Regions from separate parts of the Homo sapiens genome. Here region 1 is linked to region 2. The links come from fine-mapping of genetic effects on gene expression. A gene starts in region 2. The other region holds a variant in brackets. All regions are shown on one strand. Distances are between the middles of the regions. Region 1 has its middle 27 kb from the start of CAVIN3. Region 2 holds the start of CCKBR (cholecystokinin B receptor).

What was found. PIP is the estimated chance that this variant, and not a neighbour inherited with it, causes the effect.
Region 1: its variant is fine-mapped to the expression of CCKBR in thyroid (GTEx, PIP 0.96).

What each region holds. Positions count from the first base shown.
Region 1 is chr11:6,286,865-6,299,653 of GRCh38, reverse strand. No RefSeq gene overlaps it. Among named protein-coding and RNA genes, the nearest start is that of CAVIN3, 27 kb to the left of the region's middle. The variant G/A (reference allele first, on the strand shown) is at 6,834.
Region 2 is chr11:6,252,033-6,264,256 of GRCh38, reverse strand. It overlaps CCKBR (cholecystokinin B receptor), which reads right to left and starts at 4,419. Exons shown (of 5, transcript NM_176875.4): 1 at 4,178-4,419. The coding sequence starts at 4,328.

The DNA of each region.
Region 1 (12,789 bases), 35 kb before region 2:
TTGTTGTTGTTTTACCGGACAGCATTCATTTGCATATCTATAGACAAGAATGATTTAGCATTGCTGCCAGTTATCTACACTTTATAGAGCTGCAAAACAGCTCCCACAGAATTGGAATCAGACAAGTCAGGTGTGCTCTGGAATGACAACACGTAATTTTCAAATTAAGCACAATTTTTTCCTTATAGTCCCCCCACTTTTTATTACAAAGAACCTCAAAGATTCTTGATGACAAAATGAGTATGGTCTTATTAGATTCGGCCTGGTTCTTTAAACAGGTGCAGCAAGACTGTTAACCATATGGGCCTTCTTTAAGTTTTTTCCGCTAGAGGTTCTCTAAGAAATCTCAGCTTGATCTTTTACAAGCTTCTATTCATTTGCTGTCTTGAAGCTAAGATGGTAAGTCCAAGGAAATTTCTCCATAAGATTTCATCTGTAGTATCTATACATTTTGGCCTAATTCCTTTCTTCTTGAATCTTCCTTCCTTCCTTCCTTTGCCATGTTGGCCAGGCTCGTCTCGAACTCCTGACCTCAGGTGATCCACTCGTTTCAGCCACCCAAAGTACTGGAATTATAGGCATGAGCCACCGTGACCAGCCTCTTCTTGAATTTTTCAAAACCTCTCAAGGCTCTTGGCCTGCCACGAAAGTGACCTCCCTTACCACCTCCAAGGCTGGATCCTGGATAAATCCAGGTACCAGGACGGTTTTCCTTGGACAGATTTGCCAGCACTGGCTCCATCAAATCAACCTTAGTTTCCTAAAAGGGGCTGATCATGCACAGGCTATGGCTTCCCTGGGCTGGCAGGAAGCTCCTCTGCAGCTGCTGTTCACAGAGCTGCAGCCTGGTGGCCACTGATGCCAAAGACTGGGTACTTGGAGCCACTGGTGCGCTGGTCAGCAGAGGGCGTGCTCCCTGCCACCTGGGCGGAGAGGACTGGGGAGGATGAAGTAGGGTGAGGTTGGTGGGCTTACTACCTTAATGCTAACTCTCACAGCTGTTTGGAGATGAGCCCACCACCACCTGCCCCTGCTTGTCTCAAATCTTTTCTAAAAAGGACAAAAGAGGCTCACCAGTTGTTCCTCGTGTTCCTGGTTACAAATTATTTGGCAAAGTTTATCCCAGAGATTATCTTTAGAAAACTTTCAAAAATAATTTAGCAAAAGTATGAAGCACAAACAGAAGGACCTGTCAACCACCATGTCAGGCTTCAAGACATAAGAATTTCGAATCTGAACCATTTTTACCTGTACTCTGATTTCCAGGTATGAGCCATCATATGATTGATTACTGCTTTTATGTTCTGCTTAAGAAATCTTTGCCCACTCCAAGGAAATCTTGTCAAATCATTAGAAGAAGCTTTAGGTCACCAACAAGAATGTGGGACTGTGAATCAGTCTCAAAATCAAGAAATTAAAGCAGTCAAAAAAAAGAAAGAGAGAGAAGGAAAGAAAGAAAAAAAGAAAGAAGGAAAGACAGAAAAAAGAAAGAAGGAAAGAAAGAAAACAGTAATTTAAACAGGAAGAAAATATTGCCAGTTGCAGTGGTTATTTGGACCAGTGAAAAATAAGGCATAGTAGGAGAAAAGGTAAATTATGTTCAGGGGTTGCCCCCTAGTGTTCCTGGGCAAATTTGTAGTCTCACTGTAGGAAATGAATGGATTATCATTCCTGACCTTTATGAACTAGTCCTCTCAAGAGGAAAGGAGTGGTGAAAAAACTTTGGTGAAACAAGTTCTCTCTGAACACATCATTCTCTCTGATAGAGAAGGTGTACCTGTTGGCGATCCTGGTGCTGGTCTGGAATTAAGCTGGACAGATCCTATGCATTGCCATCTCTCTACCTACATCTTTTAGAAGAGTGGCCATTTCATGATGTTTTACATAGTATGGTAGCAGCATATTTATGTTACAGTCCTGATGTTAGTTATGTCCAAGGATGCATGTCATTGTGGTAATGCTCATTCTCAATTTGGAAGAGACCAATGCCTTCACTGCATTTGCAAAGATCTCATAAATAAGTCACGCCAGTTGGTCTTCTGTGTGGATCACAGCAAGGTGTTAAGATATTTTGCAACGTTTGAAGTATTCTCTGAAGACAATTTCTTCAGATTGTTTCTTCAAGTCTTATGGCCTTACACCAGGCACATGCTTAATAGATAGGATCTTCACACTGTATCATAAATCACTACTCTACTTGATCTGTTCTATCCAGTCTGAGATGTTTTACAGAGACAGGAAGAAATTTTTATTTAGAACTGGACTAGGAACCCTTCATCTGTATGAAGATAGTTTCCTACAGATGGACTTGATTCATATTGCACCTTGTCTAACTAAACGGGCAGAGGCTATCATATCAGAAAAGCTGTTTAGCTGTATTGCAGTCACCTGGACACAGAAGAGTACCAAGAAATGGCCCTAGGTCTTTGTGTCTGTAATGAAGCATATTAAAGAAGGAGATAAGGATATTTTTAAAATGTAGCATATTTAAAGTATTAGAAGTTCAAATCCATTATTTTCTGGGAATTTTAAGAATATTCTTTTTATATAAGTGCTTATTTATCTCTATCAGCCAATCAGAAAAGAGCCTCTTTAAAAAGAGATTGATAATCTAATTTATTAGTATTATCTAGAGGTAGGAAAATTTTACATACTTACACTGTGAAAGGTAAAGATCTTTCTAAATTATGGACACATAGACAAACAGAGACAAAGAAATCTTATACTTCAATTAAAAATTCCATCATGGGTTAAGGGTAATAAAGAAACCCCAAAACTCACCAGTCTCAGTATGAAAGATTTGTTCTCCTTCCCAGTGAGCCCAGGATTCTTAATTCATTTGGGCTTAAAGTAGACAAATAGACAAACAAAAAGAACTAATAATCCAGATTCTCCATTTTCTCTCACACAAAAGAGAATATGTCTCTATAAGTCATTCATCTATTTATAGAGATCACCAAATGGTCAGACTATGAAACCCAATTCTCAATCATTGCTGCTGCTAATGATTATTGCCTACAAATGAACCAAAACCAAAACACAAAATTAGTAAAGAGAAAAATTAAAATTACAAAAATAGCAAAGATGCATGTGTAAATTGAGCCCAAACTCGTTTTTATTTGGGGGTGGGGTGGGGTAGGGAGGTAAGAGGGAATGGTGTTTTGCATTGCCGTTATTTACAGCTTAGAGTTGTAAAAGAGCTCCCATAGAAACAGAAACAGATAATAGGAAGTGTGGGCTATTGACAATGCATGGTTTTATTGAAGCTCAAAATCTACTCTACATAAGGTAATCCTTAAGGTTGGGATGCTGATGCCATTTTCAGTGTTACAAAGCTACGGTCCTAACTGGGCCTGCCTGTAATCCACTCACTTCTGAGCCCCAGCACACGACTCTAGGATTCTGTTTACAACTCTTCTCCAACCCCAACTAGCCCACGACTTTCATCCAATCAGGACAGGCACCCTCTCGTAGCACTCACAGTATCACCAGTCAGGCCACACACAACGGGGAGAAAAAAATCAACCCTCTTTCCATGTTTTTGAAATCCAGATGTGAAGAGCTAAAAATAATTTTTTAAAACTTGAATTTGTTTAAAATCTCCCTAACTGTAGTTTCCAATGTAAAAAGCAAAGCAAAGCGAAGCGAAGTAAAACAAACCAAAAACCCACTCACAAATCCAAAGGGATTTTCTTGAACTGTTTCAACAAGAAAAACAGCAGGCTCTTCCTACTTTTCTGAAGCTCCTAAATAAAATTTTTTTCTGACTCAGAGTTATAGTGAATTGCTCAACTTTATTTCCCAATGTAAAAAAAGGAAAAGAGAAATCCTCACAAAAATACTGCAGTAAGGCCGGGCCCGGTGGCTCACGCCTGTAATCCCAGCACTTTGGGAGGCCGAGGCGGGCGGATCACGAGGTCAGGAGATCGAGACCATCCTGGGTAACACGGTGAAACCCCGTCTCTACTAAAAATACAAAATATTAGCCAGGCGTGGTGTGGGGCGCCTGTAGTCCCAGCTACTGGGGAGGCTGAGGCAGGAGAATGGCGTGAACCCGGGAGGCGGAGCTTGCAGTGAGCCGAGATCGCGCCACTGCACTCCAGCCTGGGTGACAGAGCAAGACTCCGTCTCAAAAAAAAAAAAAAAATACTGTAATAAACTGTTAATGAGGAGGACAGAAAGAAAAAAGAAGGCAGTCTATCATTCACATGTCTAAAATAGTGCTCGGAAAAGGTGGAGATGCTCCCTTCTCCGAGAGCTTTAAAATGAAACTTTAAGGGCACAATGTGGTGCTCTAGAAGGTATGACATGATATTAAAATGAGTTCCCTCTGTCTTAGATGCAGCTGCAGCCCAGAAGCAAAATAAATAACAGAAGGTGGCAAGCCCCCTACTTCAAGGTGGAGTGTTGGACTACCAAGGCAGGACCAGCAAAGGTTTTGTGAGCTACAGGTCAGTATCCATTCCTCAATCCCTCATGGTTTGAGGTTGAAGAACTGAGGGAGTGGCTGGGTGCGGCGGCTCATGCTTGTAATCCCAGCACTTTGGGAGGCCTAGGCGGGCAAATTACTAGAGGTCAAGAGTTTGAGATGAGCCTGGCCAACATGGTGAAACCTTGGCTCTACTAAATAAAATACAAAAATTAGCTGGGTGTGAGGGCAGGCGCCTGTAATCCCAGCTACTCAGGAGGCTGAGGCAGGAGAACTGCTTGAACCTGGGAGATGGAGGTTGCAATGAGCTGAGATCGTGCCACTGCACTCCAGCCTGGGCAACAGAGCGAGATTCTGTCTTTAAAAAAAAAAAAAAAAAAAAAAAAGAACTCCAGAAGAGAGACTCTGGAAAAAAAAGGTTGAGGCACTGTGGCACTTTTTTCTTCCACCTTCTTACCTTGTGGAAGGTTGGAAGTGGTGAGCTCCTCCTCACCCTAAGTCTCGTGAGATGGGGCTTTAAAAGATCAGCTGGAAAAGCTGGAAAACGATGTCTGTAGAATTGACAGGCCCAAAGTGACTGGTCTTTGCCCCATGCTGGAGAATATTAAAGGCAAAGGCAAAGATTAAAAGTAGGGCTGGAGCGTGTATTTCTTGTGAACCAGATAGGGGAAGGGAAAATATAAACATGAAGATTGTTTTCCAGGAGATCCCACTTCAGTAAGTCGGCTTCCTCCTAAAGGGTGCTAGGCAGCAGGGGGTTAGAATCAAACGCAGAAACGTATGGAGTAAGTGGCCAGCAGGAGGGTCTGTTACAGACCAATGTGTTCAGTGGAGCCATCTGTAAGGGCCCCACATAAGTGTCCTGTGTGAGGAGTCCATAGTAAGCATCTGCAAAGATCATGGAACACTACCAGCAAGTACTACTGTTCCCCTGAACTGAGGCCTTTTCTCCTTTCTCGCTCTTTCCTTCTCCCACCTCTACCCCAAACCCTGTCAGATCCATACCCCAGAGAAAGTAGGGGAGGAGAAGTAGAAGGATTAGGCTGGAAAACAAAGAAGCTAGCTGTGCCAATGCCTACCCACACCCCCACCCCTGCCCCTTCCCCTGCCCCTGCCTCCTTCTCTTGAGTTCAGGCTTCCTGAATGAACCTCTGAGTATATTCAGCTTCCAGCCTGAATCGGCTTGGGCTGGGGAAGGAGAGAAAGAAGAAAAATTTGCCTTAAAGTTCAGAGTTTTGACTATTATGAGACTGTTTTATGACTAAAAATGACTGGAGTACTTTTTAATTTTTCTGAGTGTCTGGAGAAGCTACAGGAACCCACCTACCTGAGGTTTTACTAAGGGGCAAGGAAGAAACTAGCCCCTGAGCAGAGGGAGCAGGTTAAAAAATAAAGTTGCCTTATGATTGCATCCTATTAAATGCCATCTGTTTTAGTCTTTTTTGTGCTGCTGTAACAGAATACCACAGACTGGGTAAATTACAGTGAAGAGAAATTTATCGGCTCAGAGTTTGGGAGGCTGGAAAGTCCAAGATCAAGGGGCCAGCTTCTGGTGAGGGCCTTCTTGCTGTGTTAACCCGTGTTGGAAGGGCAAAGACAGGGTGAGAGAGAGAGCAAATGAGGGCCAACTAAGGAACCCACTCCTGCAACAAAAACATTAATCTACTTATAAGAGAAGAACTTTTATGGCCTAATCATCTCTTGAAGATTCCACCCCTTAATCTATTACAATGGTGATTAAGTTTCCATCATGTGCTTTTGGGAGCCACACTCAAACCATAGCACTACCCTTTTAACATAATGACTATACAAGTTTGCTCCAAAGAAGACAGTCTCTTTCCTAACCTCTAGTGAACAAACTAATATCCTTCTCCGGTAACTAAACAGGACTTGAGAAACTTTTATCCTGAGGATATTTGAATCAGAAAAATACCCTGCAGTCTCTGAGAAATTTGTCAACTACAAAGGACAAAACAATCAAGCCGGAAAATAACTTTCTGACTTGAGCTTTCTAACATTGGCTTCTTTTTTTTTTTTTTTTTTTTTTTTTTGAGACAGAGTCTCACTCTGTCTCCCAGGCTGGAATGCAATGGTGCAATCTTAGCTCACTGCAACAGCGGCCTCCTGGGTTCAAGCAATTCTCTCATCTCAGCCTCCTGAGTAGCTGGGATTACAAGCGCGTGCTGCCACATCTGGCTAGCTTTTGTATTTTTAGTAGAGATAGGTTTCATCATATTGGCCAGGCTAATCTTGAACTCCTGACCTCAGGTGATCTGCCCACCTTGGCCTCTCAAAGTGCTGGGATTACAGGCGTTGGCTTCAAATTTTTAATATGTCACAGGGTTAATCAGACAGAAAGTTCTGGAGATAAGGGCTTTTTAGAGGAGAAAAATAATACCCCAAT[G/A]TTGGCTCATTCAGCTGGTCAAAACCATCGAGAAAGCAAACTAGACAGAGGAAACAATGAATTCTAAAACCTTACAAGGCAGGTCTTTGTATTTTCTGAGACTTATGTCCTAGGAAGCATGCCAAAGAACCTCTCAGTGAATTCTAGAGGCTTTGCACCTTAGAGTGGCAGGTAGACACCAGCTAGAGCCCTTTTCTGCCTCTCTGCTGAGAGTGGTACTGTCCTTACCAATCTTTGATATAAGTTATGAGCTGATGAAAGAATTATCTTTAAGGACCATGTGCATGTATGATTTCAGTGTAAACTGTGCTCTTTATTTCTAAGTACAGTGAATGTTTGTGTGCATTTGCTAACGAGTAGGTGCATTATAATCAATTCCTTCTTTATAATATATTGAAGTCTCTTTTTTTTTTTTTTCTGACATGGAGTCTTGTTCTGTCATCAGGCTGGAGTGCAGTGGTGCAATCTTGGCTCACTGCAACCTCCGCCTCCTGGGTTCAAGCGATTCCCCTGCCTCAGCCTCCCGAGTAGCTGGGACTATAGGTGCCCGCCACCACACCTGGCTAATTTTTTGTATTTTAGCAGAGACTGGGTTTTATCATGTTGGCCAGGATGGTCTTGATTTCCTGACCTTGTGATTTGCCCACCTTGGTCTCCCAAAAGTTCTGGGATTACAGGGATGAGCCACTGCGCCCAGCTGAAATATCTTAAAACACACCTGAAGAAGAGGGTATTATGGAGTTACTGGTGCAGATGATACCAACATTGCTTCAAAATGAACAGAAGTAAAGCTGCCTAAATGGAATCCCTGCAGCACTACTGCGGTAGACCCTGTAGGCTGACTAGCTAATTAGGCAAGGAGTCCTTGCTGGCAGTGAAGACCACAGGCCAAAGGCAGGGAATGGAGCTGTGGGGCCAAAAATGAACTTAAGTGTGAATAACTGGGGTGGGAGAATCCAAAAATTCTGTCCTATGTATCAGTACTTTTCAAACTGTAATTTGTATGGGAATGATCTAGGGGTGTTGTTAAAGTACAGGTTCTGATTTAGAAGGTCTGGGATGGGCTTGAGAGCCTTGATTTCTAACAATTCCCAGGGGATCACCCTGCTAAATCATCTTTTTAAGAAGGAAATAAATTGAGGGAAAGATTAAAAAACAAAAGAGGGGAATGAAGGTGGAAGTGAGCAATGTAAGCCCCAGTGCTTTCCCCAGGGCCATGCTCTCGGACCACTTCCAGGGGAAGACCTTTAGATTCTTCAGCCACCAAATCTCCTTGGAGGATTCTATTGCGGAATTCTCTTACAATAACTATACCACCTTGCTTATTTAGAATCTCTGTTGTATAGAGTTGGGGGGGAGGAGGGGTGTTCCCTCTGCATTTGGAGGAAAACTTCACAGTTCTAGAGTAGTGAAACCCTGGTGGTGGTGACAGCAGTGTCCCAGGGTGGTTGAAGTACTCCAAGGAATGGAGCTGAGATCTCACTGAGACTGCATACGAGGGAGCGCATACAAGGGATCTCATGGAAGGCATACAGAGGCATCACTGAGGATTCCTACAAATACATTTCTGGTGGGGGGTATTATAAGGGGGCATGAGAAGAATTAGACAAATATGTGACCTCCAGATAACTACATATATGCTCCAGAAGTGCCAGGATCTGGACACCTGCCTCACAGAGGCCATCACGCCAGTCTGTGTTAGCCAGAGAAGCAGTAACCACCCACAGAGACGGGAGCACAGCGTCACCTGGCTAAGGAAGGGGATGCTGTCTTTCTGCTTTTCCTTCTTCCCCAACACCAGTGGGAGGAACTATAGCAGGAAAGTTATGGGAGTACCTGAGAGTCAGACTATACTCCATCTCTCCTTTTTACTCTGATAATAACATTACAATTTTTAAACATATTTCTATGAATTTGCATGTTTATAATGTTTGCTCATTTTCCTATTGTGCTTGTATTTTCTTATTGATTTATAAGAACTCTTTATATATGTAAGTATATATACATACGTATATTACGTGTGTGTGTGTATATATATATATATATATATATATATATATATAAAGATACACAGATTTATATATATAATGAGAACTTTCTTGTGGGAAAAAAACCCAATAGCTTGAATCTTAGAGATTGCTAGTTATTAATGACAATAACAATGGCAGCTAATTTTTATCAATAATTTTCCAGGTACTCTGTTAGATGTTTCACATGGATTTTCTCATAATCCTCCTGACAACCCTATGAGGTAACTGCTATCACCTCAGAAAACCGAGATTTAAACAGTATAGACCACTTATCCAGTGTAACACAGCTAGTGAATATTAACACCAGGATTTGAACCCAGGCACACACTCTAGAGAAGAAGACAGGAAAGGCAAGAGGCTCTTGAGAATTCAGAGGGTCCTGAGAAGGGGGTATGCCAAGGCTGTGGGCTAAGAGTTATTAAGGTCGCAATCCTCTCCTTCCTCTCTCTTTAAAACAAATATTAATGGTGAGAGTGAGCTCTGGGCTAGGTACCGAGTAAAGGGTGGTGAAGGACACAGATAGGTCCCAGAGCTTACTGTGTGAAAGGAGAGAGCCACAACAAAAATAAGCATGTAATCTTAAATATTTGTACATGCTATGACGAAAAATTAGAAGGGCGTAACAGGTAACGAGTGGAGGACAGTTTAGACTAAAGGAGTAGGAAAGGCTTCTTTTGAGTAAGAAATTTTTAAATAGAGACCTGACAAAGAAGTATAATAAGTTAGTCAAATGAAGAGGAGGAGAAAAGAAGAAATTGCTAATGAAAAGAGAGAAATCATTCCTGATGTAGGAACGGTAAAAGGAAAGTAAATCTTGGGACCCCCAAATCACTAAGCCAAAGGGAAAAGTCAAGCTGGGAACTGCACTGGGAAAACCTGCCACCCGTTCTATTTTTTCCTTTCACAGAACAAACAGGACTTTTGAACAAGTGAAAGATGCTAGATGAGTAGGCAGGGGTTAGAGCAGGCAGAGAAGTGTTGAAAGTTTCAGGAGGGGACTTACAGGGTCCCTACCACTGGAATGAATTAGCAGAGGGTTTTGGCATTTTGAAGCTAAAGTCTCAGAATTTGTTGGTCAGTTATGGAGTCAGAAAGTGACCCTTGAAAGTGTGGGGATTGGGGCTCCTGAGGCAGGAACTGACCTTGGGCTTTGCCTATCTCAGGGGCTCCTGGTCTCAGTAGATTTTTCAGGGTCCGCGTTCTCTTCTCACCTACCCATTCTCTCCCACAATTTAGTCAGACCTCTGCAACAGATTTTCAAACTGTCCAGTCATTTCCACCTGGCCCTTTTCTACCTCTCCATCCACTTAGCATAGCATTTTCTCTTCGGGTATGGAAGAAATAGCTCAATTTTTTTGTTTTTACTCAAACCAGCTCTGGCATTTTGTACCTTTCTTCCTTTGCTCAAAACTACTTGTCATTCTTGGAATTTGACTCTCTTTTCATATTCACCTGGGAAGAATTTTAGAGCTGTAGAGAGCAGCCTAGCTCAGAAGGTACTTCCTCCACAAAGCTTTCTCAGACCCCCACAGTCAAAACCTCTATTTTGCCCATTATTGCCCATTCAAGGAGATCATAGTTGGCTTGCCTTAAAATTTTATTTCCTGCACATCTGTGCCTTCCAAACGTGAGTGAACCTATCTAGGGATGGACCATGTTACATCTTCTCAGATCTAGCCCCTTGCCTGCAGTTTCTCCTCTCCTTTCCTATAGTGGGGAATATTTCTTCACTCAAATTGATCAGTGGTGTGACCAACTTTGTAATCCTCACCTCCTAACCATATTCCCAATATTCCACAAAGGTAAGAGTCACTTGGATGTTTGTTAAAAAGTCAGATTCCTGGGCTTTGCCCTAAACCTAATGAATCAGATTCTTCAGACATGCCTCTCACATGTTATATACCTCTCTTTAAACATAATTTATATTTTTCCCTAGCAGCTTTGAAGCTTTTCTCTTTTTCGTTGGTTTTCTTTATCTTCACTATGATGGCTCTATGTGTGTATTTCTTTTGTACTTGCTGGAATTCGTAGTGCTAAAGGAAAGGGGTCCTGATTCAGACCCCAAGTGAGGGTTCTTAGATCTTGCGCAAGAAATAATTCAGGGCGAGTCCACAGAGTAAAGTGAAAGCAAGTTTATTAAGAAAGTAGAAGAATAAAAGAATGGCTACTCCATAGACAAGAGTAGCCCTGAGGGCTGCTGGTTGCCCATTTTTATGGTTATTTCTTGATGATATCCTAAACAAGGGGTGGATTATTCATGCCTCCCATTTTTAGACCATATGGCGTAACTTCCTCACGTTGCCATGGCATTTGTAAACTGTCATTGGTGCTGGTGGGAGTGTAGCAGTGAGGATGACCAGAGATCACTCTCATCACTATCTTGCTTTTGGTGGGTTTTAGCCAGCTTCTTTACTGCAACCTGTTTTATCAGCAACATCTTTATGACTTGTATTTTGCGCTAACCTCCTAACTCATCCTGTGACTTAGAATGACTTAACTGTCTGGGAATGCAGCCTAGCAGGTCTCAGCCTTATTTTACCCAGCTCCTATTCAAGATGGAGTTGTTCTGGTTCATATGCCTCTGACATGTCCCTTCTGCCTTTTATAGGAGAACCCTTAATCCTAAGGTTGCAGAGGGATGACGATCCATCTTTTGTAACGGCTTCACCTGAATAGGGGTGATGATATTCCTGCCTAGCTATTAGAGCCTCTTGTGTTTAGGGTAGAGAGGAACTCAATCAGAAAGCATTGGTATGGCAAGGGCCAATCATAACTTTGAGTTCCGAGAAAAGGTGATATCTCGAAGATTAATACGTATTTAGTTTAAGAAAACGTTCAGTAAGCTTATCCTACATTCCTACACAAAGAGTACAACAGCAATATATTCCACAACAGTAAAGCAAAATAAGTAAAACTATCTCAAGTAAACTAAATTAGAAGGCTTTATATGAATTGGGCAACTATTGGAACCAAGCTGATATAGGGTTGCTAGATGATTCCAGTACATGCCCAGAATTAGAATACTGATTCAGATTTTCACATTACCTTTCCCTTTTGTTTCTTCTGAGCAGCAGTCAGAGATTTCTGGTTGGTTCACAGAAATAAGCAGCGTTAGCCTAAATTGCAGAAACAAACTTAAAAACAACTGATGAGACTAGAATTTAATAAACAGTGTACCACAGTTCTTGAAACATAATTTCTCTCTCCAGTGTCCCATTTTTACTAAAGATAAGTTATGGTAAGACCAATTTGCTTTGTTTTGCTTGGCCTGATTACTTGTATAAAGTGCAGCAAAAATAATTATTTTTTTCATAAGCTCTTTTTGCACAGGCTTTGATGGAACTCTGTTCCCTAGAAGGAATCTTACATAAGACTTTTTTAGAGCCGAGCCCTTTCATGGGTTTGTACCCTCGAATACCTATGAGTTGAATAAATTCCTCTCCTCTTGGGGTCGCAAGATAACCTGGGGCTTCTGGACCTGTTAGAAAGTGACATTCTTTACTTACCACAGGTCAGAAACCTTGTATGGGGACTGTTATCCATACCTTGTATGGGGACCTTGTAGACAAGGTCTGAGGCCAATTGCCCAAGGGGCTTTTATTGGCTTTACAAGTCAAGTTTGATTCCTTAAAGAAAAGCACACCATTCCAATCAAAGTGTTGGTAAAATAACCAATTTCTCCAATTGTGTCCTGTTGCAAAAGAAAACATTCTTATTGCACTTATGCAAATACCTATATTGCCATAACTTAAGAATATTCACAACTAGTTTCCAAATTCTGGAGAAATCAGGTAGAGAGAAACAAATAAGCTCCAAATTTTGTTCGGAGGAGTATACTTTACTCAATTGCTAAAAGCTGTAAATAGCTCAAAAAAAAGTTTTCTTGACTCTGAAAAACAAAACAAAGGATTTAAGCAAAAAACGTT
Region 2 (12,224 bases):
TGGGTAGTGGCTGGGTGAATGGGGGAATCCACATAGTGGGTACTGAGGGAGCAGAAGTAATATGCAAGGGTGTGTAGGTAATATCAGAGTGAGTGTTGGGCATACTTTAATCTTTGAAATAGTATATGGGTAGGTGAAAGTCACGCTTATTTCTGTGGGACATATCTGGAGAATGGTAACATCTACATGCTTATAGGTAATATCCGATTGAATATGGCTTACATTTAAGTTTAGATAATATCTGAGTCACTGTAGTAACATTTGAAAGAGCAAGGGTTAATATCCAACTCTCTGTAGATAACATTTTGTAGGTAACATCTTCAGGAAGCATAGATTACATTCAGAGGTCTACTTGTGAGTAGTGGAATATCCAAATAATGATAGAAATTGCTGACTGAGCAGAAGTAATATCCAAGTATGTATGGGTAGTATTTGAGTACAGATGTTAGATGTTAACATGTTAACTAAATTAAGATGTTAATCTGGGCCAGACATGGTGGCTTATATCTGTAATCCCAGCACTTTGGAAGGCTGAGGTGGGCAGATCTCTTAAGCCAAGGATTTAGAGACCAGCCTGGGCAACATGGAAAAACCCTATCTCTACAAAAAATACAAAAAATTAGCCACTTGTGGTGGCACATGCCTGTAGTCCCAGCTATTTAGGGGGTTGAGGTGGGAGGATCACTTGAGCCTGCGGAGGTCAAGACTGCAATGAGCCATGATCATGCTACTGCACCCCAGCCTGGGCAACAGAGGGAGACTGCCTCAAAAAAAAAAAAAAAAAAAAGATGTTAATCTGAGTAAATGAAATAACTGAGCACCTGAGTGAATGTAAGTAATATTTAAGCTTTTGTGGGTATTATCTGAGTATGTGAGAGTAATATTTGTAATTTTATGGGTAGTATCTGGGAAAAGCTTACTTAAGTGAGCATAGGTAATATCTGGTTGTGTGTGGATAATAATAAAATGAAAGTGAGTAGTGTTTGATGGATGGGTAACACCAAAATGACTTCGGACAATATTAAAGTGAGTGTGGTAACATTTGTCTTTCTGTGGGTACTATCTGAGTGAACATGGGTAATACTCAAGTCTGCATGGATTATATAAGGAGAATAAAGTGGTAACATCCAAATTCCTATTGGTAACATTGGAGTGAACCTGGGTAACCTATGCATCTGCAGGGATAATATCTGAATGAGTGTGGCTGACAGGGTCTCTGTGTGTAACATCTGACTGGCTGGGTAACATCCAAATGTGTGAGGAGCATTTAGATAAGTGAGGCAAATTTTTGCACCTGTGCTCTGAATTGCGTCACATCCCGCTTTCACAGGGAATCTTCTCTATTGACTATCCCCTTTCTTATCTGCACCTTCAATCTTCCTCTCTCGGCCCAATCACCAACAAACATTTTAAAAAGCTCTTGTTTTAAAATGCGTGCACACACACGCGCACACACGTAACAAACCTATGCACATACCCACTCCCCCCTTCCTCAATCTCATGCTATTTTTGGCAATATCCTGCTTTTCTTTCTCTCTCTCTCTCTCTCTCTCTCTCTCTCTCTCTCTCTTTCTTTGCCTACCAGACTTCTTGAAAGTTTTGGCTACATACCTTGGTTCACTTCTCATAACTCCTTCTCTCACCAGTCCAATCTTTAACCTACCATAGTCAAGCCTCAATACCTACAACTCCTAAATATTTTCTTGTTATTGAATGTGAAGGATGCTGTTCTGACTGTCCTGTTTTTTATTTATGTAACTTATGTCAATAGCATTTGATATCACTTACCCCAACCTGCTTGAAACTCTCTTTTTCTTGCTTTCTGGAAGGGCGTAGCTCCTGCCTTTCTGATGGTTTCATCTGAATCTCCTTCATAAATTCTCCTTTCTCTGCCTGGCTTTTAAATAATGGTCTTATGCAGAGTCTTGACCTAGGACCTATTTTCTTCTCATTCTATACAAAATTTTATGATTTTAACTATTCTCGGGGCTTCTACATCCTGTAGGCAAAGACCTTCTTCAAGTCTGTATTTCCACCTCAGACCTCTCCTGTAAGTTCCAGACCCCTGGATTCAACAGCTTACTAGGTAACCTCACCTGGATGCCCCACTAACATTTAAACTCAATGGGTTCCAAACTGAATTTATAATTCCCTCTTCCAAACCTGTTTCTGCTGTTTTGTTATCTTTCTCATTGTATACAATTGCTATAGCACCAATATCCATTCAGTTGTCCAAGTTAGAAATCTGAATGTCATCCCTTGACCTCTTCCATCCTCTCTGCTTCTAATCTGTTGATTCCATTTCCAGAAGAGGCTCTCAAATCTATCCACCTCTCTCCATCTCCCTTGCCATTACCTTAGTCTCAGCTAGCATCATCTTTCACCCAGAACAGTGTAATATAGTAACCTTGTAAAGTATCCCCCTGCCTTCCATCTTATGTCTTCCAATCCGTTCTCCACATTATAGAACTAATCCTGGTAGTACTACCGAATCTTTTAGTAGTTCCTATTGCCCTCGGGAGAAAGTCCATGTTCCATGGTCAGGCCTAGCAGGCTCTCTGCAAACCCTCTAGGCTGGTCTCCAGCCTGTTCATTATTCCCTTCTTAAGATATATGTTCTAGTCACTCAAAACTATGTCACAGTGGATAAAAGTGCCATGAATTCAAACTTTGAGCTTCTTATACATCTTGTCCTTTTATTTGGGATGCTTTCTGCCTCTTCTGCCCGTTCACTTGGCTGGCTCTCCCATATGTATATGTGTGTGTGTGTGTGTGTGTGTGTGTGTGTGTGTGTATATATATTTTTTTTTTTTTTTTTTTTTGCCAACAGGAAGCTTAGAGCCAGCCTCCCTAATTTTTTTGACTTTGTAGCTCATTTCCTCAAGAGGCCAACTTTAATTCTCAAGGAGGCTGGGCTGGGCTAGAGGTGTTCCACTTGTGTTCCCACTATCTTTTCCCTGTCAAGGCTCTTCCACTTTGTGCTGCAATCCCCTGCTTTTCTGTCTCGCCCATTAAACTTTGAGCTCTGTGAAGTAGGAATTGTGTCGGTTTTGTTCAACTTACATTCCCACTGCCTAGCACAATCTCTGGTTCAATAAATATTGGCTGAATGACAGAATCCAAGTGTGAGTGTGTAACAACTCGGCTGAGAAAGCATAGATTATTTCGTGGGGTAAATAAATACTTGGATTACAATTTATTCCAACTTTCCCTTTTTGAGTTTAGAAAAATTTCCTTCTGCTTAACATTGCTCCTTCACCTAGAATCCCACTCCTTCCTTTTCTGCCTACTCAACTTCAAGACCCAGCTCTAAGGTTCTAGCCTCTGTGAAGTTCTTTTGGTGCCCACAGTTTAGACCCTTTCATGGGACTTCCATTGTGTCTGTGATTTTTCCATTTGCTTGGTTTCTCTCTGCACTTGGCTATGGGCCATGAGGGTCCAGACTGGGTCTAGTTTGCCCTGTGCCCCCAGCACCTAGCCTAGGGCTGGAGAGAGAGCTTGGAAGATAGCTGGAGACATTACTTGCAGACAAAGAGAGAGGGCACAGAGCCTCGAAAGCTCCAACTAGGGAGGCAGAGGGGTTTGAGAAGGAGTGAAATGGAGGCAGGCAGCTCTAAGGAGCATCCCCTAGTGTCCAGCCTAATTCAGATTTGAGGATCTTTTTTGGGATGGCTGGGGGCTGGGGTGTCAGATGTGATCACAACTTCAGCTTCGCATTCAAGCTTTCCAGAGTGCTCCCTCCCTCAACCAGCCCCCTTCTTTTCCCAGTCCTGCCTTCCTTTCTTCCTTCCCTTCTCTGTTGTGGCTCTGTGAACTGGATGTAAGAGGGAAAAGGAGATCTGCAGGGTTGGCAAGAGGAGGTCCTCGCCTTCTGACTGGTGTCTAGGAGGGGCTGCGTGTTGGGGAAGGGGCTGTGCTTTGGGGTGAGCAGGGGCTCTAGGTGTATTCAGGGGACCAGGATGTGAAGGAGTTCCGACCAGGTGGTGTGAAGCTGTGATGAAGTTGTAGGCTGTGGGGGTGAAGGTGTGAGGGGAGCTGTTTGGGGGCTGAGGGAGTACTATGAGAGGCACGGTGTGGACGTTTGAGAAGGTAGTGTGGAGCTCGTTGGGGGGACTCTATTAGTGTTCTGGGGTACAGTGAGAAATAGCTTGTGGGGGGGGCTGAGGGAGGCACCCACCTCGTGTCCCGGCTCCGCGAATGCGAGGGGGCTCGCAGCTGAGGTTGCCCACACTGCTGCTGTTGAGGAGAGGCGCCCCCGGGCGGCACAGGGAAGCCCCCGGCCCGGGTCCGGTTCCCTGCACGCTCCGGTTCAGCTTTAGCAGCTCCATGGCCCCCGCCGAGCCCGCCGCCTTACTCAGCTCGACCCGGCGGGCTCCCAACGCGGCTCCACCTGCTCACGCTGCGATTCCGGCTCAGGCTCCCGCCGCCCTCCTCTCCCTGCCCCCTGCCCCGCCTGGTCCCCGCCCCCAGCCCAGGCGCCTGCCCTCCACTCTCCCGCGGCTCGCCCCGCCTGGGTTCCCGTCCCTCCGCCAGCCTCTGTCCCGCCAGGTGACTGTGCACCCCCTCCCTGGCTCGGGAGTTCTGCCCCTCCCTGTGCGACTGTCCTCCAGGCTCGCCCCCTCCCTAGATGTGTCCCGTCTCCTCTTAGAGATTTCTCTCCTGCCCACCTCTCTTTATCACCCGCCCCCACCCCCGATTCCCAGGAATGAGAGAGAGAGAGAGAGAGAGAGAGAGAGAGAGAGAGAGAGAGAGAGATTGAAGACAAGAGTATTGGCAGCGTAGGGGGAGGTTTCGGGGAAGGGAGGGTAGGAGGGGTTGGGTAGAGACGGCTGCCACGGATCCAGCATCTTTCTCTGGTGTATCAGGGAACGTGGAGGTGGCGTTGGAGACCAGGTCTGCGTGCGTCACCTGCTGAGGCGCGGATGCTTTAGTCTGAGCCTAGAGCCGCATTTACCGTACTGTGTTGCAGTGGCCGCAGTGACCGTGACACTATTGCTACCGTAGTTCCCTGCAGCTCCTCGCTGCGGGCCTGGGGTAGCTCCTGCATCTGTCTCCGCACCCTCCATCTCCTGTCTGAGGCTTAACACTCAGGCTTGCACTTAAGGGTCCCAAGGAGCCCTCCACAGCTGGGCGGGAGTGGGGGTGGGGCCGGGGCCGAGATTTGGCTCCAGGGAAGCCTTGCCAGGGAAAAGGGCTCCCGGGAGGAAGCTTCTGACTTGAGTGTTGAGGGCAGTTGGGGGTGGTGGCAAGCACTGACAAGGATAAACCAGAGTAAGGTGAGGATGGGATATAATTCTAACGCCGGCCCAGCGCAGGCAAAAGAGAAGGAGAAGGTTGGCTTTCTCCACCGTCTCCAGGCAGCGCCCACGCCCACCCGACACGCTAACGCTCCCTGTTTGCTCTCAGTGCAGGCAGAGCTGCCTGTGTAGGGTGTCAGGTTCCCACGAGAGGGGGCTAGAAGGGGACTGGGTCACTGCGGTGCAGCGGGAACAGGGCTGAAGGGTGCAGGACTGAACTGGGTTCAGCTTCTCGGGGCAGGATTTGCCTCTTCTACTATTTCAGCCCTGCTCCCTATGCATTCTCCTATCCATTCCTTTTCTTCCCCAGATTCCTATCTCCAGATTCCTATCTCCAGATTCCTATCCATTCTTCAGATTCCGGATGAACTCCAATACGATGTGAAATTCTTCTGACCCCCAGCAGTAGCTGTAAGAGGTTGGGGGCGGGCATCAGTGGAAGAGCAAATTAGAGAATGGAGTCTGGCTTTATGGGGGATTCAGCAGGCCCTTATCCAATTAATCTTTTGGAGAGGACCTGGTTCAGCCAGCCCTGAGTTTATAGGGGCTGAAGCATTGAAAGAGAGTTGAAAGACAGTTTATGCCTGAGATGTCATCAACTGCTCCCCCTTTCCTTCCTCCTGGTACTGCCTGTCTTGCCCATCAGAGAGCCTGGACCAGAGGAGCTTGATTTGCTATTTGTTCCGCTCCAGCACAGGTGGGGCCTCAGATAACCTGCTCAAGTTTTCCCACATTGGATGACAGTACGATGAGGAGGGAAGGGAGCAAAGGATGTAAGGGAGAGGGGAGTGAAAATAGAAATAGATGGACATTCACTTATTTAGCAAACTATGCCAGTTCTAGGGGTATGCACTAGTTGTCCAATATAGTTTGCCCCTCAGTAGCACCTACTCTAGTGGGATTTTCCCAAGCAAGCCAATGATTGTAATATATGGTCGTTAAGTGCACCCACCAGGATGTACAAATCAGAAATTTAGGAATTATTATTGATGCCTTACTCCCCTATGCTCCTTCACCCCTGCGCTGGATGCTGTGATGCAAAGCCCAGAACCCTCTTCAAAAATGGAGGATTTATTTTCCAGCTGTGGAGAGTGCTCCTAAAAGATGGCCCTCAGCTGTCATAACCCTTCAGGAGTTGCCTAAGCAGAAGAAAGCCAGCTCATCCAAGGTTATGCTCCCTTTCTTGGGCATTCTATATCCAATGACCGATCAGCACAGAGGTATAAAAGTTTAATCCCCTCAACCCAGTGGTGGACAACTCTGAAAGATGCTCACACCCCTAGAACCCTTCATATGGTTGACTGAGGTCTTTGCTGGGACTGAATTACTACTCAGCTTCTCCTTTTGCCCAATCCTATTTTCATCCTCTCTCTTGCACAGGTGTTAACTCCAAGAACGCTCCTTAGTAAACATCCTCCACAGTAATCTTTGTTTGAGAGTCTGCTTCCTGGGGAACATAACTACATCACTCCCATATTGAATCAATCACAAAGTCCTGTTCATTTTAGCTACTGAGTGTTCCTTGAATCTGCCTGCTTATATGTCCACTGATATTACCCTACTCTTGAACCACACTCCTAACCTCCTAAATGGGCCACCACATTTTACTGATGCCTCTCTACATCTATACTTCACCTTAAAGCCGAAGTACTATGCTCAGAATACAAATCTGACTATCCCACTCTTTTGACCTTTGCTTTTGGGAATGAGAAAACATATTAACAGAATTTAGAAAGCCTGTGAGGCCTGGCTCCCACTTACCTCTCTAGCCACATTATTTCAAATCACATTATTTCAAATAAGAGTCACAATGATTCTTATTCTCTCCACTGTAAACACATTAGCCTTTTTTTGGTCACTCCTTCTTTTTTCTCTTTTATTTTTCTTTTTTCTTTTCTTTTTTTTTTTTTTTTTTTTTGCTATATGTCCTTCAGTTGCATGACTTTTCCATATGCTCTCTGGAAGCTTCTTCTTTCCTTCCTTACCTAGTTAACACTTACTCATCCATCTGATCTCAGCTCAAGCTACGATTCTTCAGGGATATTTCCCCTGGCTTCCTCTCCTTGGGTAGGCAGAATTAGAAGATGACCACCAATGACTGTCACCCTTATATAATCTTCTTTTGTGTGTGGATGGACCTGTGCATATGATGAGATACTACTCCCACAATTATGTTATATGGCAAAAGGGATTTTGCAGATGGAGTTAATTCTACTAATCAGTTGATCTCAAGATAGACAGATTATCTGGCTAGTCCTAACCAAGTCACATGAGTTCTTTAAAAGCCAAGGGTTCTTTTTTTCTTGCTGGTAGCAGAAGAGGAAATCAAAGAGATTGGAAGAATGAGAAGAATTCAACACACTGTTGATAGCTTGAAGATGGAGGGGATAATGTGGCAAGGAACGAATGGTGGCTGTTTTCTGGCTCGAGGGTGAAGGAGGGCACAGGACAAGCCCTGAGAGTGGCCTCTAGTTGACAGCAGTCTCTAGCTGACAGCCAGCAAAAGAACAGAGACTTCAGTCCTCCCCCGAGTCTGTAGAAGAGAATTCAGTCTGGCTGAAACCTTGATTTCTGATACCCTGAGCAGAGAACCCAGCCACACTGTGTAGACCTCTGGCCAATAGATCTGTGAGCTAATAAATGGGTGTTGTTTTTAGCCACTACATTCATGGTAATTTATTACAACAGCAACAGACAAATCATACACCTTCTATCTCATGAGGCAGCAAATGCAGACTCTTGCAAGCCATGCAAGGAAGAATTGGGAGCATTGGAAATTTGTTAAGATTTAGAAAGATTTGGAAAGATTGCAGTGGAGTTAGTGTGGGGAGCAACTTAAAAGGTGGGACCAATTGGGAGTCTATGACAGTAATTTGGGTGAGAGATGGTAGTGGCTTGACCTAAAGTCATGGACGTAGTGGAAAAGATTGATCTAAGACCTATCTAGGAGGTAGAAACAGAATTTAAAGATAATTTGCATGTGGAGGGTGAGAAAGAAGGATGAGATAAAAAATGAATAAGGTTTCTGGTAACTCAATATAAACTATTTGATGATCACCTATGATGTTCAAGGCACATTACCTGTAAGTACATTTAATCTTCATGAAGAACCATGAATTTAGGTCCAATATTGTTGATCACTATTTTAGATGAAAAAACTATGGCTTAGAGAGAGTTTAAGTAACTTGCCCAAAGCCACAAAGCTACTAGGTGAAAGAGCCAGAAGTCAAAGTCAGGGATTTTGGAAATCAGAATTCAGTTGTTCATACTGTGCTGCTTAGAATGAGTAGATGTCTTACCAAATTTCCCTGATTACCTTCTTTCTCTCATTTTACACAATATTGTTTTTAAATTTTCTCGTCTCATAAAATCTCTAATTTCTTCTCCCACCCTGACACACACACACACACACACACACACACACACAGAGACACAGAGCATTCTTCACTCTCAACCTAGACTCCAACTTCATAGAGAAAATAGTAACTAGCACAGAGAAACTCCCACCATCAAATCTGTTCTGTTTTGGACATATTAAGTTTCAGATGTCTATTAGATACCTAAGTAGAATTCCATTAGGAAGCTAAATATACAGATCATATAGGAAGTAATGCAAACCACAGAATTAGAGTGTGTAGAATAAGAACAAATGAAGGATCAAGTCAGACTTTTAGAGGTCATTATTAAAGACTGGATAGAGAAAGATGAGCCTGCAAAAGACACCAAGAAAGAGTAGACAGAGGGACAGGAGGAAACCCAGAGAGTGAAGCATCATAAAAGCTAAAAGAGAAGAGGTGCAAGAAGAAACTGGTGAACTCATTCAAATGCTGCTCCTGGGTAAGCAAAATGAGGAATGAGAAATGTGGTCCAAAATTAGTAACCTGGAGATCTTTGGCAACCTTAGAAAGAGCCATTTTAGTGAGGTTGTTGAGGCAGAAGGCAGGGTAGATGTCCTGAAAACTGAATATGGTGGGAAGAAGTGGAGTAAATGACTTCAGACAAGTTTTTAAGAAATGTAGTTACTAAGGAAAGGGGATAGAGCTGCAAGAGGATGTCAAATGAAAGATTTTTTTTTTTAAGATGGGTGGACTTGAACTTTCTTTTCTTTCTTTCTCTCTTTCTTCCTTTCTTTCTTTCTCTTTTTTTCATTTTTTTGGCAGATGGAATTACTCCAATATATAAAAAGACTAAAGATACAGGAGAATGGCTAATTAATAATGCAAGGTTCCTGAGAAGTCAGGGATGTATGCAATCCAGAGCGGAAGTGGAGGATCCTAGCTTTTGATTGCAGTAGAGACTCAATTGTGAGAGGAAATTAGTAGAAAAAGATGATTATAGATGAAAATAAGTTATGGCCTACAAATTAACCGCTACATTTCCTAGACCTTTTTGCAGCTAAGTGCAAAAAATGCACACTATGACTAGGTAGTGTCTGTAGGTAGAAGTGATATGTGCAGCTTCCACATCAAGGTCTTAAAGGAGAGAAATGGACCTTCTCTTCCTCTTTGCCCCTATGGGAGGGCAATAGGAATGTAAATAGGAAAGCAAGCCACCTTCAATCATGCAGTGAGGGTAACATATTAGGGATGGCAGAGTGACAAAATGGAAGGAGTCTGGGTCTCCTATACTCTCAAACCATTTTATCATCCCTGATTCTTCTGCATGAAAAAGAAACTGCAGTCTTAACTCGTTACAGTTTTTTTCCTCTATTGTCAGGGCAACCTAACCTGCATCTTAACTGAGACAGTTGTTTGTAGATTTGGTAGGGAGCTGCTGTCTGATAGTTTTTATTTTTGCTATGGAGTTGGAGATCTGGTTATCAGAGAGTGGTGTGTGTGTGTTTGTGTGTGTGCGTGTGATGAAAATTTTTAGTAGTCAAGATGGTTTAAGAAAACAATATATAATGGGAGAAGGGAAAAGGAGACCTGAGGAATGTAGTGAAATAATAGGAAAATACTGAGGGCCCACTTAAGGGGTGATGACTACAAATTTCTAGTGGGATCAATTTCTCAGCAGAGCTCAGCTGGTTGGATGCAAGCAAGGAGAATGTTGATGGTTTGGTTCATCCAAAGTTGGAATTTTACCAGATGAATGGAATGGCAAAATAAAGGGACAAGTGTGAAAAAACGGGCCATAAAATCTCAGCTGGACATGGAGAAGAGAGAATTATATTCCAAGGGTCTGGCTCCTGCCCTTGTTATTGTATTTGGAGATAGGGCCTTTAAAGAAGTAATTAAAGTTAAATAAAGTTATAAGGGTGGGGCTAGAACTGTTGTCATTACAAGATGGGGAAGAGGCACCAGATATCTTGTGATCCACCATTTCCCTCATCCCCTGCCACCTCTTCCCCCTGCAAGCCACACACAGGGGAAAGACCATGTGAGGATGCTTTCTGCAGGCCAAGAAGAGAGCCCTCACCAGAAACTGAATGTGTTGGTACCTTGATCTGGGTCTTCTAGGCTCTAGAACTGTGAGAAAATAAATTTCTGTTGTTTAAGTCATCCAGTCTGTGGTGTCTTGCTGTGGCAGCCTGAGCTGACTAATACATGTCCCTCTCTCCAATAGTTTCTCAGACTTCTCGTCACACTACTGTCATTACTTACTTTCTATCTTTTGTTTACTCTCACACCCAAACACTGGCTCTAGCTGGATGGTCACACTTGGCTTCAGGAGCCTCAAATATCTTATATTTTCCTTGTGGATGCCAAGTTTTCATCATCTTTGTATCTTGCCCATATTCTCCCCTCTAACTAAATGCAGATGGGTTATGGAAGGTGAGGGCTAGGAGATGGCATGTGTAGATTGATTTCAAGATGTTTTGTAAAAGGGAAAATAAAAAACAAGTAATAGCTATAGTGAAGAAGGGAGGGGGAGCAGAGGATGGAGGGGAAAGGAATGAAAATGTAGTGCTAAAAGGGTATAACTCATTTCTCGAAATCATGAAATTCCATCTATACTTCCTTTGCTAGACATAAGCCAGCATTTTGGAGAGAATGGGATATCTCAGGGCAAGAAAATAGGGATGCTTTAGATCGGAGTAAGGAAGGAATTGCAAAGCCAATGTGGGCAAAGGCATATGAAAGAGACTTGGACCCTTGTCCAGGAACAAGTCAGAAAACTAAGAGGTCAAGGAAGCACATGCAAGAGGTCCTGAAGTAGGCCTGGGCTCAGTCCTGAGGGAATCTGTCTTTCTAACTCAAGCTTTGACCTGCCAAGGTTGTTTGTTATTTGGTTTTAGTTTTGGTTTTGGTTTTTTAGAGGGGGATTTTGGACCACCTAGCTTGACTCTTGTAGCTAGAACAATTTACTTTCCCTTTTGGGAAGTCTCAATCTCCCATGGTACTGCCCCATTGGCCCAAATGTGGGCACACGATCCTTCTTTCAATACTCTATATCACAACTGAGATAAGAGGGGAACATTGAAATAAAACTTCAGTAAATATTCATGGGAAACAACCGCAGAGAGCAGAACCTACTGCCTCATGCACAGTGCCAGATAAGCTGCTTTATAAGGGACTGCTTATTCTAGGTAGCTTGCAAGGTCCACAAAATATCAGTGCTTTAACCAGGAAACCCAGTGTTTACATTCCCAGTAGTGTGAGGGTCATGTAATACGCTCTGCCTCCAGCACTCCTGGTTCTGACGCACACACGTGCAGCTGAGGTCTGGCGCTAGGAGAGAAATCAGCTACAGTTTAGTCCTTGGGGTGCCCAGCTTGCCCTTTTCCCCATTGGCTCAGCCCCGCCCTCTGTGTCTGATTAGGCCACCTTCTCCTTATATCTTTCAAGGCCTTCTGTTCTCTGCATTTCTATGACATGCAGACTTGCTTCTGTGCTGAGCTCCTGCCCACACATTCCCTGCCCAAACAGGAGGCCCTTCTCTTGGGATGATTAAACAGAGGAAGCCAGCTGAGAAGGCAGATGGGCT